2 linked regions of the Homo sapiens genome follow. The protein of the gene in region 1 purifies or fractionates together with the protein of each later gene. This does not show direct contact. Each region holds a gene or a part of one and is shown on either strand. Other genes may lie near its edges.

Region 1 (3,950 bases):
TTGCATACCATGCTACACAGCAGTTACGCATACCATGGTCCGGTGTATGCGTGTGTGTATTACCTTAGATGCATTTAAATTTGTATTATTATTTAATGTGTCTTTGTATGGTTGGCATCACCACTACTTTCAAAACATCTTTGGTGCTGGCTGTGAGTAGCTCATGTCTTCCATTTAGCTACAAGTACGGGTTATCTACCATTTGGGTCACAAGTCACTGTCTACATCATGAGAGTATACTTGGTGTTAGTTTATCCATGTCCCAGACAAATTATAAGGGATGAAATAAAAAGGGCAACAGAAACTCAACGGAAACTACTCTTGCAAATTTAGACATAAAAATTATTCTCAATACAAGAGGCATTCAGTGTTGTAGAATTTTATTTATTTTCAATTTTAAGATGATGAGGAATTAGCATTAGGATTATGATTAGCATGACCATTAGAAATCAGTATTAGCAATTAATATTCAGAGGAAATACCACAGGGACGTAAACATTGAGCTATAATTCACTGATTATTTTTGGAAATTAGAATTTTTCATAGTTCTTCATAATTAAGAAAAACTGAGTGTGTTTTATACAATTTCAGGTTACAATAAAGAAACAAATATCCACAACAAACTTCATGGAAGTAAAGGATGATTTTTCACATTGTTTAAGGCTAAAAGTGTCCCAAGAAAGACATTTTACCAACATATTTGGGAGTAAAATTGATCAAACTAGTCTAGTGCTCCTCTAAATATTCTAAAAATATTAGCATTTGAGTCAATTGCCCAGAAAAAGAAGTTGCTATTGAGAATAATGATGATGACATCGTGGAGTTTATTTTGCAAAGTGTCATGCTAAGAAGTACTTTGTAACTATTGACTCCCTGATCTTCACAATAAAACTAAGAAGTGAGGAGCTATAAAAGCCCCTCTCACCAATGACAGCATTGAGGGTAACGTGTTGGTGGTCACGGGGTCTGTTAGTGCCAGGAGTGTTTGGACTAGATAGTCTCAATTCATTATATATTCATACACATGGCATTGTGTATATAGGAAGCTTTATATGGGAATAGCAGCTAGACATTTACTGTAATTAGCAAATAAAATGTACCAAGCATGTGAACCTGCTAAATTGTTAACAATGTAATAACTAATGTGACTAATGAAAATTAGTCATACTTGAGAGTAGATCACATAAATTATTATAATCAGGATTGCTGTTTTATGGATATAAACTATGTGTACAGATATACACACATATATAAAAATGTACACATAGATACATCATATGTATATTTTATATATATATATAATGTATATTTTGCTAATTCAGAATATTTGGTGTCAGGTTTTATACATTTTTATGATACTATGTACAATGTCATCATTACTTACAACCTCCCTCATTTTACTTTTTTTAGGTTTCATTAATGGAACCTATAAAAATATATTTCTAAAGGGAAACTCCTCTCCAGTTTATGTCGCAGCCTAAATATTAGCAGTATTTCAGCTACTTCCACACTTCCTACATTTTCGGTTTGACTTTTATCATGCGATAAGACACCAGAAACAGAGGGAAAATCATGTGCTGCTTCACAAAGTCAAACAGTGGTCTCTGCTGTCTGTTCACCCTTACTCCCATTTTATACACACACACACACACGTATATGTAATAGCACAGGGACATACATATTGAGGTATAACTCACCGATGATTTTTGGAAATTGGAATTTTTCCGTAGCTCTGGCAATTAAGAAAAACTGAGGGACTGTTTTATACAATTTCAGGTTACAGTAAAATCCACAACAAACTTCAAGAATATAAAGGATGATCTTTTATCCATTATATATATATATATAAGTATATACATTCATAATTTCCTCCCATAGATTTATATATGTATATATGTAACTCTTCTGTGGTTCTAGCTTTTTCTATGGCCAGCTAGCCCTGCAAACCTAGCAATGCAAAGGGAAATTCTAAAGTCTACTCCATTTTGCAGCCAAGTGGCCTTACTTTTCCTATCTGCATACAAAAGATCTAATTTATCAGAGAACAAGCCCTCCTCAAAGTAAATTATGATTTTAAGTAAAATGTTTTGTTAAATTTATTATCTGCTCTCTCACTAGAGTGAGCACAATAAGTAACTATACTTGTTGAATATCTCCTGGGCATAGATCATACAGCTTTGCTATGGTTTAGTACACATAAAAATAATCAGAAAATGTTTGGAATGATTCTGTGACTTTATATAGGCATTTGTTTCTGAAATGATGAAGGCAACATACAGTAAAACAAAATTTAGAATTAAATGAATTGAGTTCTTCCTCTGGTCACGACATTAATTAATTCTGTGACCTTGGATTATCTTCCTAAACACCCTGAGCCTCAGTATCTGCTTATATTAATTGATATAATAAACATTCAGGGTTACTTTAAGAATCAAATAAGAAATTTATAGTTACAGGTGCAAATATTTTATACAATACCAAGTAAAATGTAAGATATCTGCAAATTATTTCAAAACTATTGGTAAATGGGTGCAAATTCTCAATCTCTCATTTAAGCAATCTACATATTCAACTAAAATCTATGAATTTAAATTGCAAATACCTCCTGATCTTCAGAAAAGGTCTGTAAACCCAGGTGCTCCCAGTGAAGTTACATCAGCAGTTAAAGTCTATCTTTTCCCCCAAGTATCCTTTGACTTGAAAGGATTGTTACTTAGTAGAAATTCTCAGAAAAAACTGTGCATTTCAATTAAGCTTGCAGAACATCTAAATGCCTTTGAAGAGCAGAAGTATGCTTGGCCTGCAAATTTTGAGAAAATTATTTTTAAAAAGTTAGTGGATAAAATAGACATAATTTTATTGGATAAAATTGTCTTTTAGGCCTACCTAAACTATTTTTTATTGCATAATACCGTACACCAAGAGATAAATCAATGCATTTATGTTATCCTGACATTTGTAAATATTCTGTACTATTTTATAAGGCGTGCATGTTGGTTGAGTAGGGATGGCCGCAAATATTTTCCTCCCACATCACTACAGTTTGAAGGTAGGACACAATGCTTGCCCAGGACTGTGATGATCTCCAAGCCCATCCTTTAAATCAAGTGACAAGATAATTCCTAACTTGTAAGTTGCAGCCTTTGCTTGCTTCCCTATGACCACTGGTGAAGTTTCTGCCAAAGAAAAGAGCAAGCTCCATGCTCCTTCAATGCAGCAGCCTTGTTAGGAAGCTCTGCATTAGCTTAAATTAAAGCTGCTTCATGCAGGATTCTTCCTTGCCTTCTGAATCTGCTTGGAACCAGTTTTCTCTCTTTGCAACATTCAACATTTCATAATGTGAATATGACTACAAGGTTTTCTGTCCTCCTTCTCTATACCGGTCACACTTCTCCAGTTATTTTATGCATTCATGTATGAATTTTTTTCCAAAGTGCTCAACTTCCAGGTATTTACTGGGGATAGCTTTTGCAATGTCTATTTTAGAATATAATACCTCAATTTCAACAGATTACTGTAGGTGTGGTTTTTCCTGTACAGAATACACTGGCAATATTACTTTTCTGTTGTTATCGCAGACACATTGAGTCATTACATACACATTCAAACTTACAGTTACCTTTTCACATGAGAAGTTCTCAAGACAGGTCAATACAGTGCTGTGCAATTTTGAGACTAAATACAAAAATATATGTTCCTAGTTTTTCTCCGTGTTCCTAAATTCTGTTTAGTATTTCAAAAAGTTGGAATCATTAAGAATGAACTCATATTGAAATAATAATCATACAATTATTAGATAATAAAGCACTAATGTACTCTGACAATTTTAGAGTAACTTAGAACCACATTCTTCAACCCACACACACCTCCTACAAGACCCATAAAGAGACTACACACTAGAATAAACCCCTCTACTAGAGAGACCTGTTATTTCTGATGAGAGTTTATTT
Region 2 (4,159 bases), on another chromosome or scaffold:
AGTCTTCCCCCACCCTCATGGGAAATTTAGAGCCCCAGGAAGGAAGCTAGGCTGGGGTTGTATACCAGACTGAGGAGACAAACATATATCTGATGCTCTGATTCATTCATGCAAGGACTTCATGGTGTTCACATCCCTGTATGCCAGGGCTGGGGGTGACTGAAGGGCAGAGATGCTCCTAACCCACCCCTCAGGCAGGGTGATGCTCAGAAGCTCCTGGGTTGACACCCAGGGCCCTTCAGCTCATCTTCTGGTCTGATTTCCTTTCAGAGGCAGTTAACCTGCCTACAGACGCTGCTATAGAGGCACTGGCCCTGTACCACCTAGGACCTGTGGGGTCAGAGTTTAAAGGATCCACAGGCCATCTCAACTCTTCCTGGTAATCTGGAGTCCCACCTCCTGCATCAACTCCCGAATACTAGTCAAGAGAACCACCCCTTGAGTCACTGACCCAGAGTAACAGTCCTTGAGTAACACCTATAGATAATATTCCATCACTCCATCCCCATAAGAATCCTCAGAGTATAAAACAAACAAAATATCCATGAGTAATAAACCCCAGATCCACCTTTAGAGCCACATTCCCACAAAAATTGAGCCCTAAGTCTAAGATGTTATTACTTAGATCCAAGTAATAACCCCTAGAATTATACCTAGGAGAAACAGTCTCTAGACCACATATCCAGAACAGAGCCCTGAGTAACACTCAGTTTTATACTAATGCCAGAGTACTAGTCACAGATCAACACTTTTGGAATATACCCAGACCAACACCCTACAAGTACCAGAATAGCACACCTGGAGACACAGCCCTGTGTAACACCTTCATAGTGACAGCCTTGAGTAGTGTCCTTAGAATAACACCCAGAAGGGTTCTCCAGGGAGAAAGAACCTCAGATTAAGGCCCTGTGAATGAAGTCTTGTCATTCTGAGTTGCGGAGGAGCCCTTTAGTCATACTGCGGCTGTAGTGGCCATCCCAGGCTGGGAACTATCATCCGTGGAACTCAGGCCAGGGAGATTTGCATGGGGCCAGGGTTAGGGAGGAGGTGACAGGAAAGAAAGGAAAGGTGTATCAGCCTGCCAAGTGAGTGATAACCTCCATTCTGCTTCCAAAGACAGAGGAAGCAACTGGGTCACCCCCACTGGTCACTGGAATATGACCTTGTGACTTGATGTGTGAGAAGGTAGGCAGGGTGGTGCTGGCATTGGAATCCCCAGCCCCTAGACTGCCTTCCCTACACCTGGCTGGGCATGGTGGCTCATCCCTGTAATCTCAGCACTTTGGGAAGCTGAGGTGGGAGGATTACCTGAAGTCAAGAGTTCGAGACCGGCCTGGGCAATACAAGAAAACCTTGTCTTTACAAAAGAAATTTTAAAAAATTAGCCAGGCATCTGTCTTTCCCTCCCTGTCACTATCCTCCAATCTTCTCTCTGTCTTTCTATAGGTCTCCGTGTCTCTGTGTCTCTTTTCATCTTGCAGAGGGTGGTGGGGGTGGGTGGGCTGCTAATCACCTGGCTGTGCTTTTGCCAGAAGAGAGAGATAGGGAAGAGGGCCGGACATTGAGGGCATAGGTCCTACCTGCTTGAATTGTTCCTCGTAGGTCCACTCGTGGGGATGGAGTCCAGGGGGCTGGCTAGAAGGCGAGCTGGGGCCCTGGGCCCCTGGACGGCTCTCCTCAGCTGCCTCCTCCTCTGCCCCGGCTTCCTCCCGCTTCTCCTCATCTTCTTCAGCATCTTCCTCTTCCTCAGCCCCAACATTCCCCAAGGCCCCCTCAGGGGCCTGTAGGGTCCGGTGGTCAGGCAGGGGAGGCTGCGGTGGCAGCAGCGGGCATGCAGGGGCCAATGGCCCCACCCCCTGGGCCAGCCGAGCTGCCTGCTGCTTCTGCAGGGCCTCCATGACAGCTTCCAGGCGCAGTCCCCCAGCTGAGGGGGTCCCTGGTACCAGGCGGGACCCCGAGGAAAGGGCCGCCTGTGGGGGAGGGAATTATGGGTGCTGGGCCCTACTGCCCCCAGAGCCCCCCAACACAGGGGGAGGTGGTCATGGATTCAGGGAAGTGCAGGGGTCACAAGGAAAGAGGCAGAAAGATGGCTTTCCCAGAGGTGAACAGAAACAGGACCAGACCCGGGGAATCAAATGGCCATTGACTGAGGACTGGAAGAGTGAGCAGATCAGAGAGGGTGACGGGGACCAAGAGACATCGGGAAATGGTGAAGGAAGGGAGAGAGAAAGAAAAGGAGAAGGGGGATGTCCGACAGAGACAATGACAGGGAGATGTGAAAATAGAGATGGAACAGGGTGACAAGGAGAGACAGAAGTGGGGTGACACAGAGACTGAGAGGGACCAAGATGGAGAGAGGCAGAGGTATCAGGCAGAGACAGGGTAGACAGACAGAGATGGAGAGAGATAGAATATTGGGTAGAGAGACAGGGAGGGTAAGAGAGGTAGAGGAGCAACAGATAAAAGACCTAAGTGACAGGTAGCTCAGAGACGGACAGAGACGGAGAGACAGAGGCGGAGATAGACAAATAGACAGGGGTTGAGATATAGGGAAAGACCAAGACAGCAGGAAACGGACAGAAGAGAGAGATTAGAAAGAGACAGTTAAATAGAGAGGGACCGACAGAGACAGGGACGGGAAAAACAGCCGGAGAGAGGGGCAGAGGACAGGGACCAAGGAGTCGCGGGGATGGAGGGCGGTGGGGCAGAGCCTGGGACGGGCACGGGACCGGACGGGCAGGAGGCGGCAGAGTCGCGACGCCCGGCTCCCTCGCTCCGGGCGCCCCGCGGCCGCACTCACCTGCCTGGCGTGGCCCGCTGCCCCTGGCGTCTCCACGGCGCTGCCTTTGCTCCGCCCGCCTCCCAGGCGGCCCTGGCCTCGGCTGGGTCCCGGCGGTGCGCTCCCGCCGCCCTGTGCTCCTCTGGCGGCTGTGCGCTCACTCGCCGCGCTGCTTGCGGCGGCCGCGGGGGCGGGACCCGAGCGGGGCAGGGCGGGCGGGGCGCATGGGGAGAGGCCCCTGTGGGATCTGCCGCTCTCAGCTCCCCAACAGGTGTCTCCCACCTTCTTTCCAGCCAGCTTCGGGGGCAGGGGGCGCTGGAAAGCTGCGGGGGAATCGTGCGAAAATGAGGGCTCTACCGCCACCGGACTCCGGACCAGAGCCCCGCCCAGCCTCACAAGTCGTGCCCCCGACACCCACACTCGGCACTGGGCTTCCACATACAAATAGCCGCATCCACACACCAACACACCTTGTCACAAGTTCAGGCGCATAGCTTCCCAGTCTCACACGTTCCGTGACATGGTCACCACAGTGCCAATGGCCTGGGCACGCTGTGATCAAGAGGGGAATCCCTCTGCAAGATGCTGGGGTGTGCGTGGAGGGTCTGGTCAGAATAGAAGCTTCTCCCTTTGCCTTGAGCACCCCTGCCCTGCCTACGTGCTGTCCCCCACTGCGGGCATGCTGCGGTTTGCACACATGAGTGCACATGGTGGTGGACCCACACCTATGCACTCACACACTCTCAGAGGTCTTTAAGCTGACTGCACACTCACCGCATGCAGATACACAGCCACACACAGTTTTTGTCTCTTTTGACATTCTATTATGGAAATTTTCTTTTCTTTTCTTTTTCTTTCTTTTCTTTTTTTTCTTTTTTGGAGACAGAGTCTCTGTCACCCAGGCTGGAGTGCAGTGGCGCGATCTGGGCTCACTGCAGCCTCCGCCTCCCAGGTTCAAGTGATTCTACTGCCTCAGCCTCCCGAATAGCTGGAATTAGCTGGGATTACAGGCGTCCACCACCAGACCCGGCTAATTTTTGTCTTTTTAGTAGAGATGGGGTTTCACCATTTTGGCTAGGCTGGTCTCGAACTCCTGACCTCAAGTGATCCACCCACCCTGGCCACCCACAGTGCTGGGATTACAGGCATGAGCTACCGTACCCAGCCTGTATTATGAAAATTTTGAAACATAGACAAGTGAATAGTATAATGAACCTCTGGTACTCATCATAGGTTTGTTTCAACAGTGACCGGCACTTCGCCCATGTTCACACACATTCTCCACCTATGTGTGCCTGACTGCCACATCTGTATCTCCAGACCCCCTCAGCCCACTGCTTTGCGCCCTCCCCCTAACTATTCCCAAGACGCTGAAATGCT

Evidence for each region. The genes of interacting proteins can lie anywhere in the genome.
Region 2: the proteins of OR2T1 (region 1) and ARID3C purify together in Homo sapiens (affinity purification with mass spectrometry; one large-scale study listed by BioGRID and IntAct). This does not show direct contact.

What each region holds. Positions count from the first base shown.
Region 1 is NC_000001.11:248,401,898-248,405,847, reverse strand, and holds the start of OR2T1 (olfactory receptor 2T1), read right to left. Parts: upstream 2,801-3,950; 5' UTR 2,603-2,800; intron 1-2,602. UniProt on the Homo sapiens protein: Odorant receptor.
Region 2 is NC_000009.12:34,626,117-34,630,275, forward strand, and holds the start of ARID3C (AT-rich interactive domain-containing protein 3C), read right to left. Parts: upstream 2,801-4,159; intron 1,971-2,800; coding exon of another isoform or gene 1,899-1,970; coding exon 1,581-1,898; intron 1-1,580. UniProt on the Homo sapiens protein: Transcription factor involved in monocyte-to-macrophage differentiation.